Regions from separate parts of the Homo sapiens genome. Here all the other regions are linked to region 2. The links come from fine-mapping of genetic effects on gene expression. A gene starts in region 2. Each other region holds a variant in brackets. All regions are shown on one strand. Distances are from middle to middle. Region 1 overlaps ADAMTSL2 (ADAMTS like 2). Region 2 holds the start of ADAMTSL2 (ADAMTS like 2). Region 3 holds the start of LOC102723855 (a long non-coding RNA gene).

Evidence for each region.
Region 1: its variant is fine-mapped to the expression of ADAMTSL2 in lung (TOPMed, PIP above 0.99).
Region 3: its variant is fine-mapped to the expression of ADAMTSL2 in whole blood (TOPMed, PIP above 0.99). The same link has a PIP of 0.9 or more in blood mononuclear cells.

What each region holds. Positions count from the first base shown.
Region 1 is chr9:133,559,724-133,567,130 of GRCh38, reverse strand. ADAMTSL2 (ADAMTS like 2) reads right to left here. Exons shown (of 19, transcript NM_014694.4): 12 at 5,836-5,933; 13 at 69-195. Among named protein-coding and RNA genes, the nearest start is that of ADAMTSL2, 29 kb to the right of the region's middle. The variant C/T (reference allele first, on the strand shown) is at 3,801.
Region 2 is chr9:133,529,800-133,537,152 of GRCh38, reverse strand. ADAMTSL2 (ADAMTS like 2) reads right to left here and starts at 2,449. Exons shown (of 19, transcript NM_014694.4): 1 at 2,236-2,449; 2 at 351-590. The coding sequence starts at 440. RefSeq lists enhancers at 1-338, 879-1,420, 1,961-2,502, 2,503-3,042, 3,043-3,584 and 1 more and a silencer at 3,843-3,932.
Region 3 is chr9:133,484,686-133,492,092 of GRCh38, reverse strand. LOC102723855 (a long non-coding RNA gene) reads right to left here and starts at 382. Exons shown (of 3, transcript XR_428608.4): 1 at 1-382. RefSeq lists enhancers at 5,664-6,178, 6,179-6,694, 7,210-7,407. The variant C/T (reference allele first, on the strand shown) is at 4,085.

The DNA.
Region 1 (7,407 bases), 30 kb before region 2:
TGCTCCTTTGGGCAGAGCCCCTCACGCCCCCTGCCGACCCCCTGCCCAGGGCCCCTGGTGGCAGGTACCTGGGCTGGCACTCCCTCCCAGCGCAGAACTCGTGGACAGGCTCGGGACGGGTCAGGGCGTCACAGTAGCTGTCATCCACCTCGACGCCATCATAGCGGACACACATGGCGTACGCAGACATGACCCCTGGGTTGGGGACAGGGGTGGGTCTGTGAGCCATGCCGGCACCTTGGAGCCCAGCAGACAGGCCTCAGGACTTGGGGCAAGTCACCTGACCTCTCAGCTCAGCTTTCTGGCTTGGGGATCAGTCACAGCTTGTGCAACTGTGGCATGAGGGCAGCACTGTGGGTCTGAGCTGTGCGGGTCTGAGCTCTTCTCTTTGCACCCCCACCCCGCCCCACCCAACCCAGCTGGGCTCCCAGTTCCCATGTCACGGAGTCCGGGCTTTGAGTCTGCTCCAGCTGGCCCCCGTGGAGGTGCAGAGGCAAACACAGTCAGGTGTCCCCCATCGCCAGGCGTTCAGCAACCACCCATCCCTGGGTGGACAGGCAGGCGGGAGTGACATCTGACGGCTCCAGCCCCGTCAGCCTCCTCAGAGGTCATGGTGGGGGTTCGGGCGCGCCCTGCCCTCTGTGGCATGCCCCAGTCCTTAGCAAGCATCCTCTTGAACTTTCTTTTTTTGAGATGGAGCCTCACTCCGTGGCCCAGGCTGTAGTGCAATGGTGCAATCTCAGCTCACTGCAACCTCCCCCTCCTGGGTTCAAGCAATTCTCCTGCCTCAGCCTCCCGAGTAGCTGGGATTACAGGCATGTGCCACCACACCCGGCTAATTTTTGTATTTTTATGGAAATTGGGTTTCACCATGTTGGCCAGGCTGGTCTTGAACTTCTGACCTCAGGTGATCCGCCCGCCTTGGCCTCCCAAAGTGCTGGGATTACATGCGTGAGCCACCGCGCCAGGCCTGAACTTTCTTTAATCATCACTGTGTGCCTGTCTTTGTTGGTGCCCCGTACTCTGTAATCCCACTGGGGGACAGTGGGTGACAGGCAGCCCTCACCTAGCAGTGCCACTTCCTTGACCACATCTCCACCTTCTGCTTCTTTCGTCCTCGCCCCTGCACCCTTGCCTGGTACCGAACTGCCACACAGGCCCAGCTCCCTGCCCAGGAGCAGGATGATTCTGGGAGAGCCGGCAGCAGTGGGAACGGCCTTGGGGTGGGGTTAGGGTTTGCTGCTTCTGCTGTGGCTGTGTGTGTGTGTGTGTGTGTGTGTGTGTGTGTGTGGCCACGGGAGACAGACCCAGCCTTCCGGGATGACGGGCATCATGGAACGGTCTTGGCTGCAGCTGCCAGTTCCCCCAGAAGGAAATCGGTTTCCCCATATCCAGAGAACCCAGCCGCCCGGCGGCGTGTGTCTGCAGGCCAGCGGCTCCTGCCTCTCCAAGCCCCAGCGCTGGATGGAACGAAACAGCCTGGGAAGCAGCCGACAAGGGGATTTTTTCTTTTTTCCGTAAAGGACGAGCCAGGCTGCAATCACGGTTCCTCTCCCGCCAGAGCTGGGCCGTGCAGCCTTTAGCCTTCTCTGAGGGGGAGGCTGGCTTCCCGGCCAGGTCTGCTTGGAATGTTCCAAGCCTCAGAGACACCCGCTCTGGGGCCCAGGGAGGTGCGGGGCTGGGGACTTGCAGACCATCGCCAAGTGCCTGGTTATTCATTCGCTCCTCGTCACGGAGTGGAAACGCGGCAGGCCTTGGTCAAGAGAGACTGGAATCCAAGTCCCAGCTCAGTGCCTCCCTGGGGTGACGTGACCGTGACCAGACTCCAGGCCTCAGCATGCTCCTTCCCGAAATGGGAACCTTCCAGAGAGCCTGTGAGAATCAAATGCCAGGACGTTTTTTCTGGGCACCCTCTTCATGACACCCATCTCGAAAACGGTGCTTTTCAAACCCCCTGAGCCACGGAGCCCCTCCTTGAAACAAAAGAAAGGGGAGGATGAAGCCTGGGGGCCGCAGGATCCACTGTCCTCACCACGGTGCCCTGGAGCGCCGAAGGGCAGCAGAAACTTCCACCTATGACCTGAGCCGAGGCCAAACTCACGCTCCTCTGTTGCTATGGCTCCAAAAGAGTGTCTTCGAAGAAAAATCTAAAAACAAGCTTCCCCACCGCGGCCAAAGCTCAGGGCAGGCTGATCTGCCCCACTGATAGAACTGCCCTGTGCCTGGGTTCTTGCGAGGCACAGGATGGAGGGTGGGCCAATGACCATCCATGGGACATCCGCACGGACACAACCTATGCAAAGGGTGGACCCTGACTCTGTTATTTCTGCCCAGTGCCATTCAGCACCTCCCACAGTGACAGGGAACTCTCCCTCCCTCCTGCCCTCCCTTTCTCTCTCTCTCTCTCACCCTCTCTCTCTCTCCTTCTCTCTCTCTCCCTCTCCCTCTCTCTCTCCCTCTCCCTCTCTCTCTCCCTCTCTCCCTCTCTCCCTCTCTCTCTCTCTCCCTCTCTCTCTCTCTCTCCCTCTCTCTCCCCCTCTCTCTCTCCTTCTCTCTCCCTCTCCCTCTCTCTCTCCCTCTCCCTCTCTCCCTCTCTGTCTCTCTCTCTCTCCCTCTCCCTCTCTCTCTCCCTCTCTGTCTCCCTCTCTCTCTCCCTCTCTCTCTCTCCCTCTCTCCCTCTCTCTCCCTCTCTCTCTCCCTCTCTCTCTCCCTCTCTCTCTCCCTCTCTCTCTCCCTCTCTCTCTCCCTCTCTCTCCCTCTCTCTCCCTCTCTCTCTCCCTCTCTCTTTCTCTCTCTTTCTCTCTCTCCCTCTCTCTTTCTCTCTCTCTCCCTCTCTCTCCCTCTCTCTCTCCCTCTTTCTCTCTCTCTCCCTCTCTCTCTCCCTCTTTCTCTCTCTCTCTCCCTCTCTCTCCCTCTCCCTCTCTCTCTCTCCCTCTCTCTCTCTCTCCCTCTCTCTCTCTCTCCCTTTCTCTCTGTCTCTCTCCCCCTTTCTCTCTCTCTCTCTCTCTCTCCCCCTTTTTCTCTCTCTCTCTCTCTCCCTCTCTCTCTCTCTCCCTTTCTCTCTGTCTCTCTCCCCCTTTCTCTCTCTCTGTCTCTCTCCCCCTTTCTCTCTCTCTCTCTCTCTCCCTTCTCTCTCTCTCTCCCTCTCTCTCTCTCTCTCCCTCTCTCTCTCCCTCTCTCTCTCTCTCTCTCCCTCTCTCTCTCTCTCTCTCCCTCTCTCTCTCTCCCCTTCTCTCTCTCTCTCCCTCTCTCTCTCTCTCTCTCTCCCTCTCTCTCTCTCTCTCTCCCTCTCTCTCTCTCTCTCTCTCTCTCCCCCTTTCTCTCTCTCTCTCTCTGTCTCTCAGGGTGGCTCATTTCCATTTCTGAACAACCTCCTGTAAAGCAGAGTTTCCTTCTTCCAAAGCCAAAACCTGTCTTTCTGATTTCCTGTTGTCCTTTGCCCCACTGCACCTTGGGCCACGCTGCACAGACCCAGTCCAGCCCCCTCCCTGCCATTCTCTGGGTGTTGGGAGACAGTGCTGTGTCCTCCCTGGGGACATCTTCCACGCAGGGCTGCCCATCAGGCCCCTTGCCAGCGAGGCTGCCTCACCCTGCAGACGTCTCGAGCGACGTCCCCTCTCCAGCCAGCGATGTGTCTGGGAGGAATCACAGATGTTTGCAGACACTTAGTGACAACGCCCACAGGCTTGACACTTACTGACAACGCCCACACGCTTGGAGTCCCCTGGCCAGGAAGAGTGGAGGAACTCAGGGCAGGTCCGCAAAGGACTTGGCAAAGCAGACACCCTGCTGACACCCCA[C/T]CACCATGCTCAGCTCCGCTAGGGGTCTGCCCGGAAGGCAGGTCACATGGCTCACTTCCAAGGCCAGCTGCTCCTGGGTATGGTGGAAGCCGCACCCTGCATCAGGTGGTGGCAGCCACCCTCAGAACGGCAGCATCCATTGACCTCTGACCATGAGAGGCTATTCCTTGTTTCATGTGGATCCCCACAACCCACCTTTGAGATAAGCAGGCGTCCCAGTTCACCTGTGGAAAACAGTGGCTCGGAAGGCTTTGGCAATTTGCCCAGGGCCCATGGTGTGGTCAACCAGGCGGTGCAAGCCTGGCCAAGCCGGTGCCCACCACGCCGCCCACAGCGGTGCGAGCCTGGCCAAGCCAGGTGCCCACCACGCCGCCCACAGCGGTGCGAGCCTGGCCAAGCCGGTGCCCACCACGCCGCCCACAGCGGTGCAAGCCTGGCCAAGCCGGGTGCCCACCACGCCTCCCACAGCGGTGCGAGCCTGGCCAAGCCGGGTGCCCACCACGCCGCCCACAGCGGTGCGAGCCTGGCCAAGCCGGTGCCCACCACGCCGCCCACAGCGGTGCGAGCCTGGCCAAGCCGGTGCCCACCACGCCGCCCACGGCGGTGCGAGCCTGGCCAAGTCGGGTGCCCACCACGCCGCCCACGGCGGTGCGAGCCTGGCCAAGCCGGTGCCCGCCACGCCGCCCACGGCGGTGCGAACCGGGCCCAGCCGGGTGCCCGCCACGCCGCCCACGGCGGTGCGAGCCGGGCCCAGCAGGGTGCCCGCCACGCCGCCCACGGCGGTGCGAGCCGGGCCCAGCCGGGTGCCCGCCACGCCGCCCACGGCGGTGCGAGCCTGGCCGAGCCGGGTGCCCGCCACGCCGCCCACGGCGGTGCGAGCCTGGCCGAGCCGGGTGCCCGCCACGCCGCCCACAGCACTTGCTTTTTCCCTCCAGGATGCCAGGCGCAGGGGCGAACACAGCATGCCCCATGGCTATGCCCTGTTTGGGGGCTCTTGTAACAGGAGGCAGAGCCCTTTCTTCAGTCCCAGAGAGGCAAGGCCAGTGTGAGCAGAGCCTGCAGGGCCGCCCCAGCCCCTCCCTCTCTCGGGCCCATCTCCTGAGATGCCAGCAGGGCTGCAGAGGGTGCGGCCAAGCTCAGACTGCCCAGCTGTGTGGAATCCTCACTGGCCAGAGACTGCAAGGGCATCAAATGCCCTGGCAAATGGGTGGCACTGGGGCGGGACCAGGAGCATCAAACCTTTTGAGGGCCAGCTGGGTATCCTCTACATCCAAACATGAAGCCCCAAGAATAGATAAAATGTGACCTCACAGCCGGCACTGGGGTCTCCCTGCCATATTTTCTCCCATCAACGGCCCTGTATCCTGATCCTGGGTTTGACATCAGACCTCGCGGCATCCCCCAGGGGAGGGTACTAGAGTGGGCAGCAGAGGCAGCTCCAGCTCTAGCGGCTGTGGCCAGCGTCTCAGGGCGATGGTGGCCGTGCAACCAGACAGCTGTGGGTTCAAATCCCAGCTCAACTCTTACTAACCACACACATCTGTCTGTCCAGGCACCACCGAGGAGGGTCTTTTTTCCCCTCCTAACTTCTCCCCTGCTGATGAGGTCCTAGAATTTGCCTACTTCCCTTCGTCACAGATCACAGGGGCCTATGACTCCCTTCCTATGTTTGCTGGAAGCAAAAGTAAAATCTCTGCTACCTAAGATTTCTTACTTTTAACCCAAAGGATGTTTGCCCTAACAAAACATGGTATCACTGGCAACAGACAAGGGCTACCACCAATGGGTGGTAGCCCGGATGACCCCCAGGGGCCTGGACCTGACCATGGTCTAGCACACTGTGAGAATGAGGGTGGCCTCACCAGACACCCAAACTCCTATCACGCCACACTGCCCCCAAGTCAGGAGGCCACGGACAAGCACCCCGAGGGCAGTTTGGGGGCTGCAAGCTAGTGGGTGGGCCCCACAGCCCCAGCCCATGTCCATGGAAATGGGTTCAGGGCAGTTGCTGCCCCTTGGCACCCGTGACCAGTACCTGTGGTGCAGGTGGCACTGCAGGGCTCGTGGGACGAGAGCTTCCACCGGTACATGTCCGCGGGACTCACGCCTTGCTTGCGCGCCTTGGGCCTGGTCCTGAAAGCGAGACCAAGCAGGGAAGGTGATGAGACGCTCCAGGCCCCACCGGCAGGCTCCGGCTTTTCAGGCGAGGGAGTTTTCTTCGGAGGGTATGTTCGCCTGAAGCACACACCTGTCCTGAGCCCCGGGCCGACCCTCCACCTGCTACGGTCAGAGTTCCCACTGTCTGAAGTGGAACGGATGAGGCGCCCGCAGAGGGGCACATTTTAGGATTGATTGGCATTGTTTTCCATCTCAACTGCATGGGAGCTGCCCGAGCTCCTTCCGGAGGGGAGGGGTGGCCTGAGAATTTGGGGCCCCCAGCACTGTAGTTGCTCCCTGCACACACGCAGGCTTCTCAATATTACCTTCTCACATCAGCTAGTGGGTTCCTTCTTCCCACCGGGGAGGGGACCTCAGAAGGTGTCTTATGTGCTAAGAATGTTCCAGAATTCTCTCCCACCCCCTCCTCCAGCTGGGACTCTGATGGAATGGGGGACACTAGGCATCCAGCCTCCAATTATCAAAATTAAAAAGCTCGGCTGCTGGCAGGGGCCGAGCCTACAGTGCAATTCAGGCAGGCCATGGCTGCACGGACCTGCTGGGGTCGGGGGAGGCACGCTGGGTCCCAGCCAGCCACCAGCTATGATTCTTGGCTGGAGCCTATGCAGCCAAAGCCAACTATTGTTAGGACTGTTTGCTTCTTTGAACCAGTAGGTGTGCCTGGGCCCAACCTCCACATCCAATGTGCAGGCTCATTCTGGACTCGGCAGGGGAGGAGGGAAGCAGAGGCGGCAGCAGCTCCACAGCCCGGGCATCTGCTCTGGGACGCCACCATGGAGTCCCGCCGCCCCTGAGCCAGAGAAGGGGCGATGGCAAGCCGGCGCGGTGGACAGCAGGTCCTTCGAGCCTCGACTTCCTTTTTAAACTGGACAGTGCAGCAGGTGGCATTGCCCAACTCCACTTTCCTCTGGGCCCAGAGGGGCTGGCTAGAGATGACCCCAAGCCGCCATACTTCACTGGGCTGAAACGTGGGCCAGGTCACAGGTCCTTCTTCAGGACCTTCAGTCACCTGGGGGTGGTCAGGCTTAGAGCATTATATTCAGAAAGGCTTTCAGATTGACTCCGTGATACAGACATGGGTTTGGATTGAATGGGGAGTTTACAATGTGTTAGGCAAGCGGGTGAGCATTGCTCTTCTGTTTTGCTTGGACTGGAATGGGAGGATCCCACAGCCAGGCAGTATTTGTGGGGATGAACGCTGCCTTGACCACACATCTGAGGCCCCAGGAATGATCTACCCACAGGAGCTTCAGCAGTGAGTTCACTGGTGTGGCTCCCTAAACTCAGGGAGGGAGAAGAGGAGTGAAGGGAGAAGGCATGGGGACCAAGGCCCAGGAAGGGCTGCGGGCTGGGGGCTGGTCCCACTGTTTCTTCAAAGCCTCCTTCACCTGGGAGCTTCAAGCCAGGAGAGTCTGTCCCATCCTGGGGC
Region 2 (7,353 bases):
CTCCTGGGGCCGCATCTAACTGTCCTCACTTTCCCCGGAGCAGCTCAGGGCCCAACTGCGTTCTGCAGGACACAGCCTACCCTGGCCGTGCTGGGGCCTTCACTTGGAAGGGAAGCACTCAGCCCCCTCAGCCCTCGCCTGCCAAGTCGCCAGGGGCTCCACAGTAGCCAGGGCCCCAGTTCAGAGGCTGATCTGACTGGCTCTGGGCAGAAGTTTCTAGGAGCCAAGATGGGTTCTGGGACCTGGGGCACGTGCCCACACGGCTCCCTCCAAGCCAGTCCATCTGAGAGTGATCACAGCACCTGGGTAGGGGACTGGCATGGGCCCTCAGACCACAACACCCCACTCACCGTGGACCCGGTTGACACTGTGTCCCCAGCTACAACTGCCAGAACCAGCAGGAACCAGGCCCAGCAGGAACATTGCCATCTGCCATCCATCCTAGGAAGCAAGGCCACTGTCACCACCAGGCCAGCTCCGATCCTCTTCCAGATGACCAGGGTACGCTTTGGGAAGAGCCCTCGGGGCCCAGCCAGTGCCCAGGCCTCAAGGTTATCTGGGACTAGTTGGTCGTGGTTGTCTGGCAGACCCTGTTGGGAAGGATGAACCCCCCGCCTCAGTCTAGGCTTAGCAAGAAGGAGCTTGGTGAATGATTAGTAATGCCTGCTTCAGGCAAGACACCCAGCGGCGGTGTGCGTGCTAAGCCTGTGCCACCCTTGATCCAAGGGCATGCAGGGAAGCATGCCATGCTTTGCCTCCAAGTCCTCAAGCCCCCTAGAGAAGGGCTGTGGAGACAGCCAGCCTCGGCTGAGGGGGCTGGGGACCCAGGCGGGGGGAAAGGCTCTGGTTCGAAGGGATGGGCCTGGGCTCAGTCCAGCGCCTTGGCAGGAGCACCTTGGGATTTTAACTGGCTCAGCTCTTGCTGGCCTCGCAGGAGAATGGCCTCTGCCACTGGCTGCTAGGGTCAGTGCATGGGGATGGGCTTGGCCAGGTCCCGGGGGAATGTGCAGCCTCGCCCTAGACCAGCAGCTCCACAGTCAGCATCCAGCAACAGCCGGCACTCAGGTGAGGCAGAACCCAGGTACCTATGCCGCCTCCCGATCCCCGGAGAGAAGATGGAATTGGGGGAGGGGCAGGGCAGGAGGAGGTGCAGTTTGTGCCAGCATGTCAGCAGTCCAGGGCCACAAGGCTGACTTCCTCCCAACAGCCAGCACCCTTGGCTCAAAACACCTGCCAGGGGTCAAAGCAAGCCCATTGGAAGGGACTGTCCAGCCTCCAGGCCCTCAGCTCTCCCCACCCCCTCCTCAGCGTCGACCCTGCCCTGTGGAAGGGAAGACCAGAGATCCACCATGACCTCTGTCCAGGCCTTGCTCAGGTGCTGAGGGTCACTTGCCAGCGAGTTAGAGAAGGGATTTCAGAAACCACGCAGCCTGCACTCATAACCTGGAGCCCAGAGAGGGGAGCCAACCTGCTCAAAGCCACACAGCAAGGTAGCACACTAGCAAACTCAGGGACTCGACCCCCACGCCTGGCCAATTCCAGGGGAAGAAGGCATGGAGGTCACCCCTCACCCCTGCCAGGCCAGAGGCCAACTCGGGCTCTGCCCCTCCCTCCTCAGCAGCCTCCATCCAACTTGAAGAGTTTCCTTGCAGGCCCGGCACCTGCAGATTTTCAGGGGCCACTCCAAGGACACCACTGCAGCCCGGACGACGCAGCAGTGCACCCTGGAGTGGGGAGCCTGAGTCTGACCTCCCCTGCCCCCGCCGCCTGCCCCCCACCTCCCTCCCCTGCAGACCTCCATCTGCACTCTCAGCCTCACACCCACAGGAGCCCCCTCCACTGTGCCATTGGCTAACGGGTGCCCCAGCCTCTGCCTGCCGGCTGAAGACAGGTGCCAGCCGGCCTCACACTTGCTTTTTTCATTAAGGCTTCCAGACACCACTGGCTTCTGGCCAGGCCTCGCTCACGGGGATCCATCCCTCCCTGGGGTCCAAAAGCAGCGGCTGGCGGCAGCAGAGAGGTCTGCCGTGCACACAGAGCTCCGGGCGCACAAGGCTAGGTGCTGGGAGGCCACCCTGCCCCGTGCTCTGCGGCCCGACCCCTCCCCACAAGCCTCCCCACGTTATGTAACGGCTCCAGAGGGCGCGGGGTGCTCCTACCCCCAGCCCCACTCTGAGCAGTGGGCTGGCCTGGTGGACGCTGCAACGTGAGGGGGACGGGGACGAGGTGGCCTACCTGGCTTCGGGTCAGCAGGTTGTCCTCCCAGAGAAAGGGGCGAGCGCTGCGGAGGGCAGACGGCGCCAGGTGCGCTGTGCGTGCGGGGGCGGCGTGAGTGCAGAGGCTGCGGCCCGGCCTCCCTCTCCCCTTCCCCTCCTCCCCCGCGCCGCCTCCCTCTCCCACTTCAAAGAGCATCCAAGAGAGGGGGTTCCCGGGAGGGGCGCAGCCCAGTGGCGGCTCTGCGCCGGCGGCCGCCTTTATAGCTGTCAGGCAGACGGGGAGGAACACTCACACTTCCCACCAGGCCGCTCCCCCGCCCGCGCCGGCCGGCCTGGCGCACACTTTAACCCGCTCTGCGCCTCTGGAGCCCGGCCAGGCCGGCCCAGCTGCCTGTTGGCTGCTGCCGGCGGCGGCGGCCCAGGAGCGGCGAGCAGGGAGGCCTTCTTCCCGGGTCCAGAACTGGGGGCCACATGTCGGGTGTCCAGACGGAGCAGCCGCTGGCCTGAGGTTACCGGGGAGGCTGGCGGTGGCAAAGCCCCAGCCCCGCCTGTCCGGCTTCTGCCTCCAGAGCGGGCCCTGTCCCTGGGGCTCCTGAGAATGGGGTCTGGGATGTATGAGGTGTCCCGTCTGATGGCTCCGTTGTACGGAGGGAAAGGCTGAACTTCCGGGACGACCGTGCCCCAGGTCACGAGCCTCAGAAAGCTCCCGAGATGCAGGGGCCTAAGCAGGTGGAGGGACGCAGGGAGACCCAGCGAGAATGAACCAAGGGCTCCAGGGAGGAGACAGATGTGCCCGTGGCCTGCTGACCAGATGGCTAGAGCAGCCAGGGCCAGGGCAGAGAGGCTCAGGGATTCTGCAGATGTCCAGCACCAACTTGGCAGCCCCTGGCAGGCCAGGCCTGGAGCTCAAGCCTCTGTTCCTGCTGAGTCAGGGCACAGAGGGGAGCGAGAGTGGGTGGAGCAGCAGAGCCCCCCTGGGAAACTCCCGGCGGGCCCCAGACTTTGTGAGGCTTTCCTAAAGCAAGGCTGGGCACCTAGCCTCTGCACACCAGCTTCCCCAGAGCCCATCCTCGGCAAACAGAGGCACCTCCAAAAAGGGGAGGAGGAGGAAGCTGGGGCACCATTCCATCAGGTCATCTGTGTCTTTTCATCCATGCCCCTGCCTCCATGCAGCAGATGTCCTGGGCCCACAGCAGTGCCGGGAAGACACTTCTCCTTCCCTCTGTCCTCCCTGCTGGAAGAAACTTGTGAGTTCCTTCAGCTGCCTTCATGAGAAAGTTCTGCCCTGTGTCTGACCACCCACCAGAAAGGCTGGGAAGGAAAGCCACCAGTAATAGTAGTGAAAGCGATAATACCGTCTGCCCTCTGTCCAGCTTGTCCTACGGGCCCAGAGCTGTGAGGCCAGATCCACCTTTATGATCTGCATTTCACAGGTGGAAGAACTGAGGTTCGGGGACCAAGTCACCTCTCCAGTAGGCAAGGCTGGGATGCCAGCGCTCCTGAGTGTCGGGTTCTCTCCTCTGCCGGGTTGTTTAAGTTTCTCTCCCCGGGACCCTCGGGCAGGCAAGTCTTATTCATCTCATTCTCCTGCTGGGGCAACTGGGATGCAAGGTGGCTGCTCCTAGTCACAGGGCCACCTGCGGTGTGGAACCAGGACTAACCCTAACCCTAACCCAGGCCCACACTGCCCCCTGGGGTCGCTGTGCTGAATCACAGACATGGTGGCACCTGTCACCCAGCACACACACACACACACACACACACACACACACAGGCACACACACACCCAGTCCCTCTCACATGACCGGATTACACTCGCTCTGGGTGCCTCTGCCATCCCCTTCCTCTCTCTTCTGGTGACCGCCAGGCCTCGCACCCCTTGGCACAGTCCCCGAGCTCTCCTGGCGTTTGTGGCCTCACATCCAGCCAGCGCCAGGGTGACTAACGGTTTCCCTTGGGAGGGACCCCACAGCCGACCAACACAAACACCCCCAGTGTCTTCTCTTGGCTCAGCAGGACGGCACAGGCTGCAGGCTGGCCACCTGGGAGACGGGTCTGTGGGGCCAGCCATCCCCTGGCTCTGTGACCTCCTGCAGGTGTGTGACCCTCCAGGCCCCAGCTCCCCTGGCCAGCCACACTTCCACACCACCCCCACCCCTTACCCCAGAGCCTGCAGACTTGAGGCCCACAGGGAGCCATGACTGGCACGTAGCAGGTGCTCTGGTAGCTCCTGATGCCAGGGGCTCCTTACCCCTTAGAGAGTGCTGTTGAGGTGAGTCCCCCACTCTCCAGGATCCCTCTTCGGCCTGCAAATTCCCGGCCTCTCAGGGCCTTCCCCATGTAGGATGGTCTCAGCCCACACCTACCGGCACTTGTAGGGGTGTTGCAGCCGTATGGCCCTGGTGCTGGAGACACCACCTGCCTTTAGAAGGGGATTGTTGGCCAGGCGCAGTGGCTCATGCCTATAATCCCAGCAGTTTGAGAGGCTGAAGCAGGGGGATCACACGAGGTCAGGAGTTTGAGACCAGCATGGCCAACATGGTAAAATCCTGTCTCTACTAAAAATACAAAAATTAGCTGGGCGTGGTGGCGGGCACCTGTAATCCCAGCTACTCGGAAGGCTGAGGCAGGAGAATTGCTTGAACCTGGGAGGTGGAGGTTGCAGTGAGCCGAGATCTCGCCGCTGCCCTCCAGTCTGGGTGAAAGAGTGAGATTCCGTCTCAAAAAGAAAAAAAGAGAGAGAAAAAAAAGAAGGGGATTTTCTCCGCCAGTGTTTTCCAGATATCTGAGGAGCTTAGAAATAGGACAGCAGGAATATGTGTGGGGGATGCCCGGGAGGGTGGGGTTCCAGGGAAAACACGGCGGGGATAGAGAAGCAGGCTTGAGGCAGAGGGGCTGGTGGGCCGTGGCTGACCACTTTGGAGGTTCCCTGGGGAGGATGTTAGGCTGCCGCAGTGGGAGCAGGGCCTGTCCTCACAGCAAAGTGGCCACAGCAGGCTCGGGAGTTTAAGGACGTGGCCCGAGCTGTCGAGGTGGGTCCCCTCTCTGTCACCCAGAGGCCTAGCAGGCCTGGCAAATGTATGTGTGTAGTGTGGTTCACCTAGCCGATAGGGCTGGCCGGCCACAGCCTCAAGAGTGGCCCACCAATACCACCTTCCCTGGCATCCTGCGGTTCTTCTCTGTTGCCAGCCCAGGACCCAGAACATCCTAGGAGCCTCCTGGGCAGACCCAGCCAGAGTTCTCACACCTGACTGGGACGGGGCCACCAAGGGACCATGTGGCCAGCTGGGAGGTGGCTGGCAGCCCCGGAAGAGGACCAGGACTCAGAAGGCAGCCCCAGGGAAAGAGCGAGGGGGCCTCAGCAACCCCAAGAGCCGTCCCTGTCCCCGAGCTTCCTTCCTGGCCCAGGATAGAAGCCAGCTGTCCCTGAGACCCCCCTGGGGCTGGATATACGGGAAGAGCCTCCCCCGCCTTCCCTGGCTGGTCCCAGGTCCATGCACGACCACTGGCTGGCCAGGTCACTTCAGGCCACTTGTCCCTGACAGGCCGAGTTTCCTGGTCTGTTGCACAAGGTCAAGGTCCTTTTTTAGCCCCAGACATCTCACAGGCACACTCAAGAGACAACTGAGACAAAAGCAGAGGTGGGGGCTCCTGCTTCCCCTCTTCTCCCCAGCAGCCCTGAGGCCCCTTCTGGGCACCAGGACTCCTGGAAGCATCATCTGAAAGCTGGCGGACCGGAAGAACCCCAGCCCCCAGCAGCCCCTCGGGCTCTGCTCGCACACGGCCATGACCTCCAGAGATGCCCCGTGTCAGGGATATCTGCTGGGGGCAGGAGGACATCACCAAGCCAGTGAGCTCTTTCTTCCATGCCACCCACAGTGACCAGGGGCGGGCAGCCACTGGTGTCACAGCCAGGTGAAGCAGGAAACCCAGGACCTTGGATCCCGACACTCAGAAGGGCCCCGTCTCAGAGGCTTAGCGTGGAGGCTCAGCATAGGAAGCAGCAGCTCTTCCAATAGCACAGCAACAGCAGCCTCACGCGTGAGTGCCTGGAACCGGACTCTTTGGGTTCAAATCCTGACTCCGTCTCTCTCCAGCTGGGTGACTTTGGGCGAGGGCAGAAGCTTCTCTGTGCCTCAGCTTCCTCACCTGTAAAGTGGCGGTGATAAGGCACTCCCCATGCTGGACTCTTGTGAGGCTGAAATGAGTCCATATGGGAGAAGGGCCTGGGATGGTGGTGGAGAAAGGAAGGGCTGCACGTGCTTTGCTCTGAGCCCAAAGGGTAGCCCGGGGCCAGTGTCTACTCTGCTGTCATCCTCCATCCTGACAATGCCACATCAGGTAACACTGCCACGCCCAGACAGAGAAGGAAGCTGAGGCCAAGGCTTGGACCCCGCCTGAGTCCAAGTGGACTTTCTCAGCCTGGCCAACTTTCTCACATTGTCTCTCGAGTGTGCCTGTGAGATGTCTGGGGCTAGGATGGGGTGCCTGTCATTGGTCCAGGATGGGGTGCACCTGGGTCCCAGGAGAGCCCAGAGCAGCAGGACGTGCTCAGCCTCCCCACCAGGACCAGCAGCGGGACCCTCCCCGATGGCCTCCACTGCTGTTCCTGGAGCCCAGGGCCTTGCGAGCCCTGACTCAGCTTCTCCTTTCCCTGCAAGCCCAGGGATGTGGTGCCCAAGAGGGGCAAGTTTCCACGTAGAGAGGCAAGCTGGGGCAGACAAGAGGCTGGGACCAACAGGGACGCAGGGCCTGCAAAGGGGTCAGGAGCAGCCTTTGGTTCACTGAGAGGTGTGGGTCTGGGCTGGCCTGCTCTCCGTCCTCCCAGCACACACACAGGACTCCGATTCCCCTCTGGGAGTGCTCCCTGCCAACATCAACCCTGCTGTGGCTCAGCCCACGGGTGGAGAATGGACATCCCTGGGTGGTACACCTATGCCCCCGATCAGAGCCTGCCCTGAGGAGGGGACTGCAGCCCCCAGGGGTGACCAGCTGGTGCCGGACCACAGAACTTGGTTTCTCCTCCTCCTCTTCCTCCTTCTTTCTCAGCCAGGAGCACTGGCGTTTTCTGTTAGGCCAACGCTGAAAGCTCGAGCTGGGGGAGCTCATGTCTATGGCTAACAGAGACTGCTTAGGC
Region 3 (7,407 bases), 45 kb after region 2:
ACATCTGGCCACGGTAGGGGGACCTCGTCTGACCCCTCCCTTAATGCCTGCTGGGGAACCCCAGAGGGGACAGGAGCTCACTTCACCGGGTCAGAATCAGACCTCTCACCCACATCCCAGGCAGCCTAATCCTTTCCTCCAGGCCTCAGGGCCTCATCTGTAAACTGAGGCTGTCAAAGATGGTGGTCAAGGTACCAGAAGCCCATTAAGTAGCCAACCAGCCAGGCTCAGGGCTGACCCCCGCGCTCTCCTCTCCCCCATTTTACCGATGAGGAAATGAAGGCTCACGGAGGGAAGACCACACAGCGAGGATTGAAGCTTGGGTGGGACCCCAGGAGCAGAGCGGGCAAGGACGGCGGCTTCCCAAGGAGGGCTGATTGGCCTGCAGAGGGGTCAAGGACAGTGGTGTCCCTAGGAGGGGCTGATGCACCAGCAGAGGAGACGGGCCAGCCCCACCCTTGCCTTATCCAATTCCTTCTTCATCCCCCTAAATGGGATGCCCAGAATGCATGTGGGTTGCCTGAAGCCCCTTGAAAGCCCCCGGAGTGTCAGATGGGGGGTGTCCAGCCAGGTCTTTGGTTGAAGGAAAAGAGAGAGAACCCACCAGAGCCCAGTCCCGGGCGGGCTTCGCCTGCAGGAGGAGCCCCACCCCATGCCGTCCCGGTGAGGAAGTCAGGCGACACCTCTGTGCACCTGGCCATCTGCTGTCTGCGTACCTGCTCCTGTCCAGTCTGAGTGTCATTGGGTGTTTTTCATTCTCACCTTCCAGAGGATACCGAGGCTGGAAGAGGCACAGTGACCGGCACAGGGCCCCAGGGTCCTAGGTTGTACTAGGTCTCAGATGAACGCATGACCTAAAGCCACCCACCTCTCTGGGAGCTGGGCCAAGTGCAACTTCCCACCCAGGCTGTCCTCCTCCCTCCCTCCTCCTCCAAGTCCTCCTCCAGTTCCTCCTCCCCTCCTCCTCCCCCTCCTCTCCCTCTAGCTCCTCCTTCCCCCTCCTCCTCCAACTCCTCCTCCCCCTCATCCTCCAGCTTTTCCTCCTCCCCCTCCAGCTTCTCCTTCTCACTGTCCTCCTCCCTTTCCTCCTCCCCCAACTCCTCCTCCTCCCTCCTCCACCTTTTGCTCCTCCCTCTCCTACTTTCCATCCTCCTCCCCCAACTCCTCCTCCTCCCTCCTCCACCTTTTCCTCCTCCCTCTCCTCCTTTCCATCCTCCTCCAACTCCTCCTTCTCCCCCTCCCCTCCTCCTCCAGCACCTCCTTCCCCTCTTCCTCCTCCAGCTCCTCTTCCTCACCTTCCCCCCCTCCTCCCTCTCCTCCTCCTCCTTCTTCTCCCTGCTTCTCCTTCTCCAGCTCCTCCTCCCCCTCCAGATCCTCCCCATCCTCCTCCTGCAGCCTTGAAGCAGTAGGGCCCGACTGTCCCGACAGCACCCCTGCACGCCTCTGAGGACGATTCCCCAGTGCCCCTCAGGGTGTGGCAGTGAGGAGGGTGCCTAGATCCAGAGCACACCCATGAGCCAGCCCCTTCCAGCCTCCAGGTCCCTCAATCCCCAGATGAAGAGAGAGTGACACCGGGTGTCCAGCAGGAGTGCATGAGGCTGCAGCAAACAGAAGCCAACCCCATCACTCCACATGGACATCCAGCCTCCAGACACTGCCTGAGAGCCCCTGCCTGCTTCCTTCCCCAGCAGCGTAGCGTGGGTCCCACCCTCCTGCCTCGGTCTCAGCCTCAAGACTGGGTCTCACCCTCATGGTTGCCAGTGAGCAGCTGCCTCCCCCGGCCACGCGACGGGATTCCAGGCAGGAAAAAGAGGGCAGGACCCAAAACGTTTTCCAGTGAGACTTTACCTCTCTAATCAGGAAGAGCTGCCCCAGACCCTCCTGTCTAGCCCTCGTGGCCTCTGCACCGACACGTGGCCACCTGGCCGCAGGGAAGGCTCATTGCCATCCCCAAGCAAAATTAGGGTCCTTTCAGAAGGAAGCAGAAAGGAATGGAGGTGGCAGTATAGCCCCACAGCCCCCGGTGACTGACCTGGAGGAAGAGTGACTTTCCCAAAGCCACTCAACTAGGGAGTGCTGGAAATACAGGCTGGATTGGAGTCCATCTGTCCCCATGCCCGCTCTCTCAACAATGGCACAGAGCAGCCTCTTCCCCGAGGGGGGAGCTTGCCTTGCCCCTCTATGGGCCACTTTAACCTGGCCTTGCAGACACCCACCAGCCCACATCCAGGCTGGTAGAAAGGATGCCAGTGTCACTCCATACCCAGCTTCCTGGTTAAAGACACACATCCAAACACACAGAACCCATGTACACATAAACACACATATATACACATGCACACACACGGGCACACACACAGGCAAACACACATAGGCACATCCCTACACAGAGACACACACACACGCACACACGCTCTGGCGGGCTGCCTGCTCTCACACCTCTTTGCAAACCAGCTTGAGCTGCAGTCCTGCCAACCCCACCCCAGAACTCTCTCTGGCTGGCTGAGCCCCGTCCCCAGGCCCACCCTGTCACCCTTTGCACTGTCTAGCCCGGCAAAAGCACATACTTTCCTAACCTCAGGCATCTGGCTGCCCAGCAGCCCCTGGAAGGTGGGGAGGGGAGGTAGGAGACAAGGCGGGAAAAACCCCAAGGTAGAACCACAATGTTTATAAAACGGGCCACTGAATTATACAGAACAATATTTTCCTTGCGGATGCGATTCCTTCCTGGCCAAGCTGCACGGAGATGCCTGCTCTCACCCCAGGCCCTCTCTGCGAGGGCTTGGCCTGCAGGAGCCACCAGAGCTAGGCGGGTGGAATGAGTTGGCCCCTGGAAATGCATTGGAAACCACACAGCCTTCTCATGGGCGCTGGTCAGAAATACAAACGCACAGAGCAGGCATACACTGCCCTGGTCGGCCTGCGTTTCTCGTTAGCACTGGGCCTGCAGGCAGGGCTGAGGCCCAGGGTGGCAAGGGCCAGAGGCCATCCTCCTGCTGCCCTGCTCTGGGGCAGACATGGGCTCCTCGGCCTGCGTACCTGGGCTTCCCTGCAGCCCTCGTCCCTGGTCCTGATGGCTCCTGGGCCAAGGCTGGAAGCCACTTCTAGGAGTGCGAATGACTGGAACTTTCGGACCTGATCTCAGCACTTGGGAGGAAGAAGCCGCAGGTTCTGCCTCTGCCTCGGGCAGCCTCTGACGGGATGCGAAGAGGGACGTGGGTTTGAAATCCCCAACAGCCCAGCCCAGACCACCCTGGCAGACTCTACCAGCCCGTACTGTGAGTTACTAACTCCACCCCCCGACCTCAGAAGCTGGGTCTCAGGGTCTCCATTTTTACTTCTTCTTCTTTTTTTTTTTTTTTGAGACAAAGTCTTGCTCTGTCACCCAGGCTGGAGTGCAGTGGCGTGATCTCAGCTCACTGCAACCTCCACCTCCTGAGTTCAAGCGATTCTCCTGCCTTAGCCTCCTGAGTAGCTGGGATTACAGGCGTGTGCCACCACACCGAGCTAATTTTTAAATTGTTTGTAGAGACGGGGTTTAGCCATGTTGCCCAGGCTGGTCTCGAACTCCTGTCCTCAAGCAATCCACCTGCCTCGGCCTCCCAAAGTGCTGGGATTACAGGCCTGAGCCACTGCACCCAGCCTTCGAGGTCTCCATTTGACAAGATGCGTTGAGGGGTGAACACGGAGAGGCAGAGAAAGCTGGAGCCGTGTGGAGCTGGGGGAGTCAGGCGCCTGCCTGCAGCCACTCTCCTCCACCAACAGAGAGGGGACATGACAGAGGGAGCAGAGAGAACAGCCCCCAAGGGGCCCCTGCTCCCTGGGCAGAAGGCCAGAGGCTCCGGCGGCCATGCTTGCTGCCTCCGCCAGGCCATGTGCTGCTTGGGGCCATGTAGAGCCTGATTCTGAGAATCTGCGGCATCCCCCAGGTGGGTGTGCGGGACAGGGAGGAGGCTCACAGAGAGGCTTGTGGGGGGAAGCAGGGAGGATCAGCCTCAACATTGCTCTGCCAGGAACCGGCCTCCCTCCTTTCTCCGGGTGTGCCCTTCCTGTAGCAGGCAGGATGGGCAGGGGAGGGAGGCGG[C/T]TCCGTGGCGCGCCCCCACGTCCTGTCCTGCTTATGACAGCTCAGGGAGGCCCCGGTCTAGCCTGTAGGCCTTTGCTCTCTCAGTCCCCCCACCTGAAAGGCCACCCCACTGCTTCAGGAGGTGCCCCAAACCTCCAGGCTCTACCTCCGTCTCCCCCTCTGCACGACGCCTCTAAAGCCACCGCTCGCTTCCCGGCTCGGCTTTTCCAGGGCAGTAGGGGCAGCACGCTGGACTATGGTCTGCCCAGAGACAGAGACAGAGGAAGCGTACAGCCCCCCGGCTGCCCCATCATGGACACCGAGGTGTGTACTTTGGCTTCAGAAAGCTGGAGGAGGGAGAAGAGCCCCACCTACGGGGACCCCAGGAAGGACAAAGCGTGGTTTGGGAATGTGGAACCACGGCCTTGCCGCTCACTTGCCCCTTCTCGGTGGCTGCTTCTCGGAGGCTCCAGAGGCCTCCAGTTCCCTGAGGGGAGCAGTAGCTGGTGCAGAAGAACACAGAGTGACTTCTGAACTCCCCATAGTCTGTTCCTCTGCCTGGAACAGCCTCCCTGGGGACCCCGGCCCTGGCCTACTCCTCCTACACCCTAGAGCTCATCTGCCCCTTCCTGCAGGCCCTACTTACCCAGCCCAGCCCCAGCATGCTGCAGTGAGTCCAGCCTTCCCATTCCTGGTCATACCCCAGCTCCGTCAGGGATCCTGTTTACCCTGTTTCCCCGCAGGGGCTGGCTCACAGTAGAAATTTTTTTTTTCTTTTTTTTTTTGAGACGGAGTTTCACTCTTTTGCTCAGGCTGGAGTGCAATGGCTCAATCTCGGCTCACCGCAACTTCTGCCTCCTGGGTTCAAGCAATTCTCCTGCTTCAGCCTCCTGAGTAGCTGGGACTTCAGGTGGCCGCCACCATGCCCAACTAATTTTGTATTTTTAGTAGAGACGGGGTTTCTCCATGTTGGTCAGGCTGGTCTCGAACTCCTGACCTCAGATGATCCACCTGCCTCGGCCTCCCAAAGTGCTGGGATTACAGGCTTGAGCCACCGCACCCGGCCCACAGTAGAAATCTTGACAAGTACTTGTTCCGTGAGAGACGGCGGTGGGGGGTCTTGGAGCCTCCAGGAGACCTTCCAGCCCGAAGGTCTCCCACACTCCTCCCAGCCCTAAAAATGCTTCCCTGCTTCCTATGTCGAGGTCAGGGAGGGAGCTGTTGCGGCACAAAAGAGCATCAGGGCCCTGGGCCAGGGCCACAGGCAGCATTCTCTGACTCTAGAGCCCGGCTCACAACTTACCTCCGCCCTATGATTTTGTTAAGGAGATTATAGATATGGAGATGGGGAAAGAAGATAAATAGAAAATGTTAAAAATCTGTTCTCTCTGGGTAACAGGATTTGTGCTTATCCACATCCACAATCTCAAAATGTTCTGCACCAAAACATAAAAAGCCTTCAGCTCCTCAGCCCTGGCCTGGACTACCCAGAGGGCACCATGCAGCAGACGATGCGATTCTATCTGTAGCCACCAGGTGGCAGCAAAGACCAGGGCACCCGCCTGGCCCAGCCCCAGCCTCCCACGGCACCTGCCTTCCCAACAGGGCCCAGAAGTGGGGTATTGTGAGCCCCATTGGATGACCAGGGAAACCAGGATCCAGGTGGGAAAAGGCACCTGCCCATGTCACAGCCCAGCACGGGCAGAGCCTGGACTAGAACCCCCATCTTCCAACTCACCCGCTCATTTCACCAGTACCTAGGGGTCACTTGGCTTTAACTGCGATACCCAAAAGGGCCTTGCAAAGATTCAGACGGGGCCAAGGTCCTGCAGCCAGCCTGGAGAGGAAGTGGATTTGAGCCCGATCTGCCTGAGCGCCGGGGCTGCGCGAGGCTCTCAGCCCAACATCCGGGGCCGTCCCCAGGAGCACGCCCCCTGCCTGCAATGGCAGAGTCCGGTGCCACCCAGGGGCCCCGCTGGGGAGTCTTGGGGTCCCGTTGGGGCTGCTTTGGGAAAGGGTGGAATGGAGTGCAGCCCAGGGTGTCGCTGGGAGGCCCCGCTGTGCCTCCCCTAACTCCGTGCCAGGCCCAGGCCCCCAACACTTTCCTGGAGCCCACATTAGCAGCAGCTTTGGCAAGGTCCGTCCCACACCAGCCAGGCCGAGAGCAGGAGGAACAGCAGGACAAGGGCTGCAGCCAGGGTCACGGAAGGCGCCAGGGTCACGGAAGGCACCAGGTCCGAGTCTTCAGGGTCATCACCAGGGACATCTCTGGGGACGTTGGGGACACCGGACAGCTGGGTGCCAGAGACCTTCTCCCCTGGGGGCCCTGGGCAGCCCATCTGTGGGAAGGAGGAGGCAAGGGGCAGGACCTCCTCGGGGAAGGCCCCACCTGCCCACCCTCTGCTGTCCCTCTGGTCTGCTCCCTCAGGAAGGCCTGATGTGGGTTGCATAGGCCAAAGCAGGGGGCATGAGGTGACCTAGAAGTGACCCTGGGCAGCAGCTCTGAGCTTCAGTCTTCTCCTCCATAAAACAGGGGTGAAGAAGACCCCCAGAGTGGGATGAGTATTCCCGGCATCTGCTCCCCGCCTCCCACCTTCCCAAGACACGGCAGCCCTACTGTCCCCTCGGAGACCTCGGCCCTGGTGCCAGGCCTGGAATGCAGCTTGGCCCGTTTCCGGGGAACTGGGAAGCTGTCAGACTGGTCTGGAGGGACCTTTGTCAAACTGCATCAACGCGGCCAGCTGCCCTCCCCCTGCACGGCAGCGGTGAGGTGGGCACAGGTGGCATCCATCCTACAGATGAGAAAAGTGAGGCTTAGCGGACCAGTGGCTCCTGAGAAGCCCCGGAGATTGGCAGAGGCCCCTATGGCAGCCCCCGTGGAGACCTGGGAAACAGCTTCCAAGTGCCAGGCCCCAGCCCTCCCCCGCAACAGGGCAGAGTCTGGACCAGATCATTTAAGCCCCAGCGCCCTGGACCAGCAAACCACCGCCAGGGATGCTCCACCCAGCCCCCTCCAGATCCTGCCCCCAAGCTGGACTCCAGGCCCCTCCCTCTTACCCCAGCTGGGTGTGCAAGGCCCAGTCACCTTCCAGCCATGGGGGGTCCCATGTCCTGGGAGGGGCCTGCCCTCAGCTGCCATGCTCCCCAGGGACAGGCGGCGGACAGTGGCAGCTGAGTGCACCCCCTCGAGCTTCCCTCTGCAGGACCCACCCCCCTGGGGCCTTCCTCGGGGAGGCGCCCAGCAGGAATGACAGGAAAGGAGGGAGAACTCGCTGTGGGTGTGGCCAGCACTGAGAGAGGGGTGGTGGCCGTCCCAGGCACCAGAGCAGACCCAGGGTCCCCCC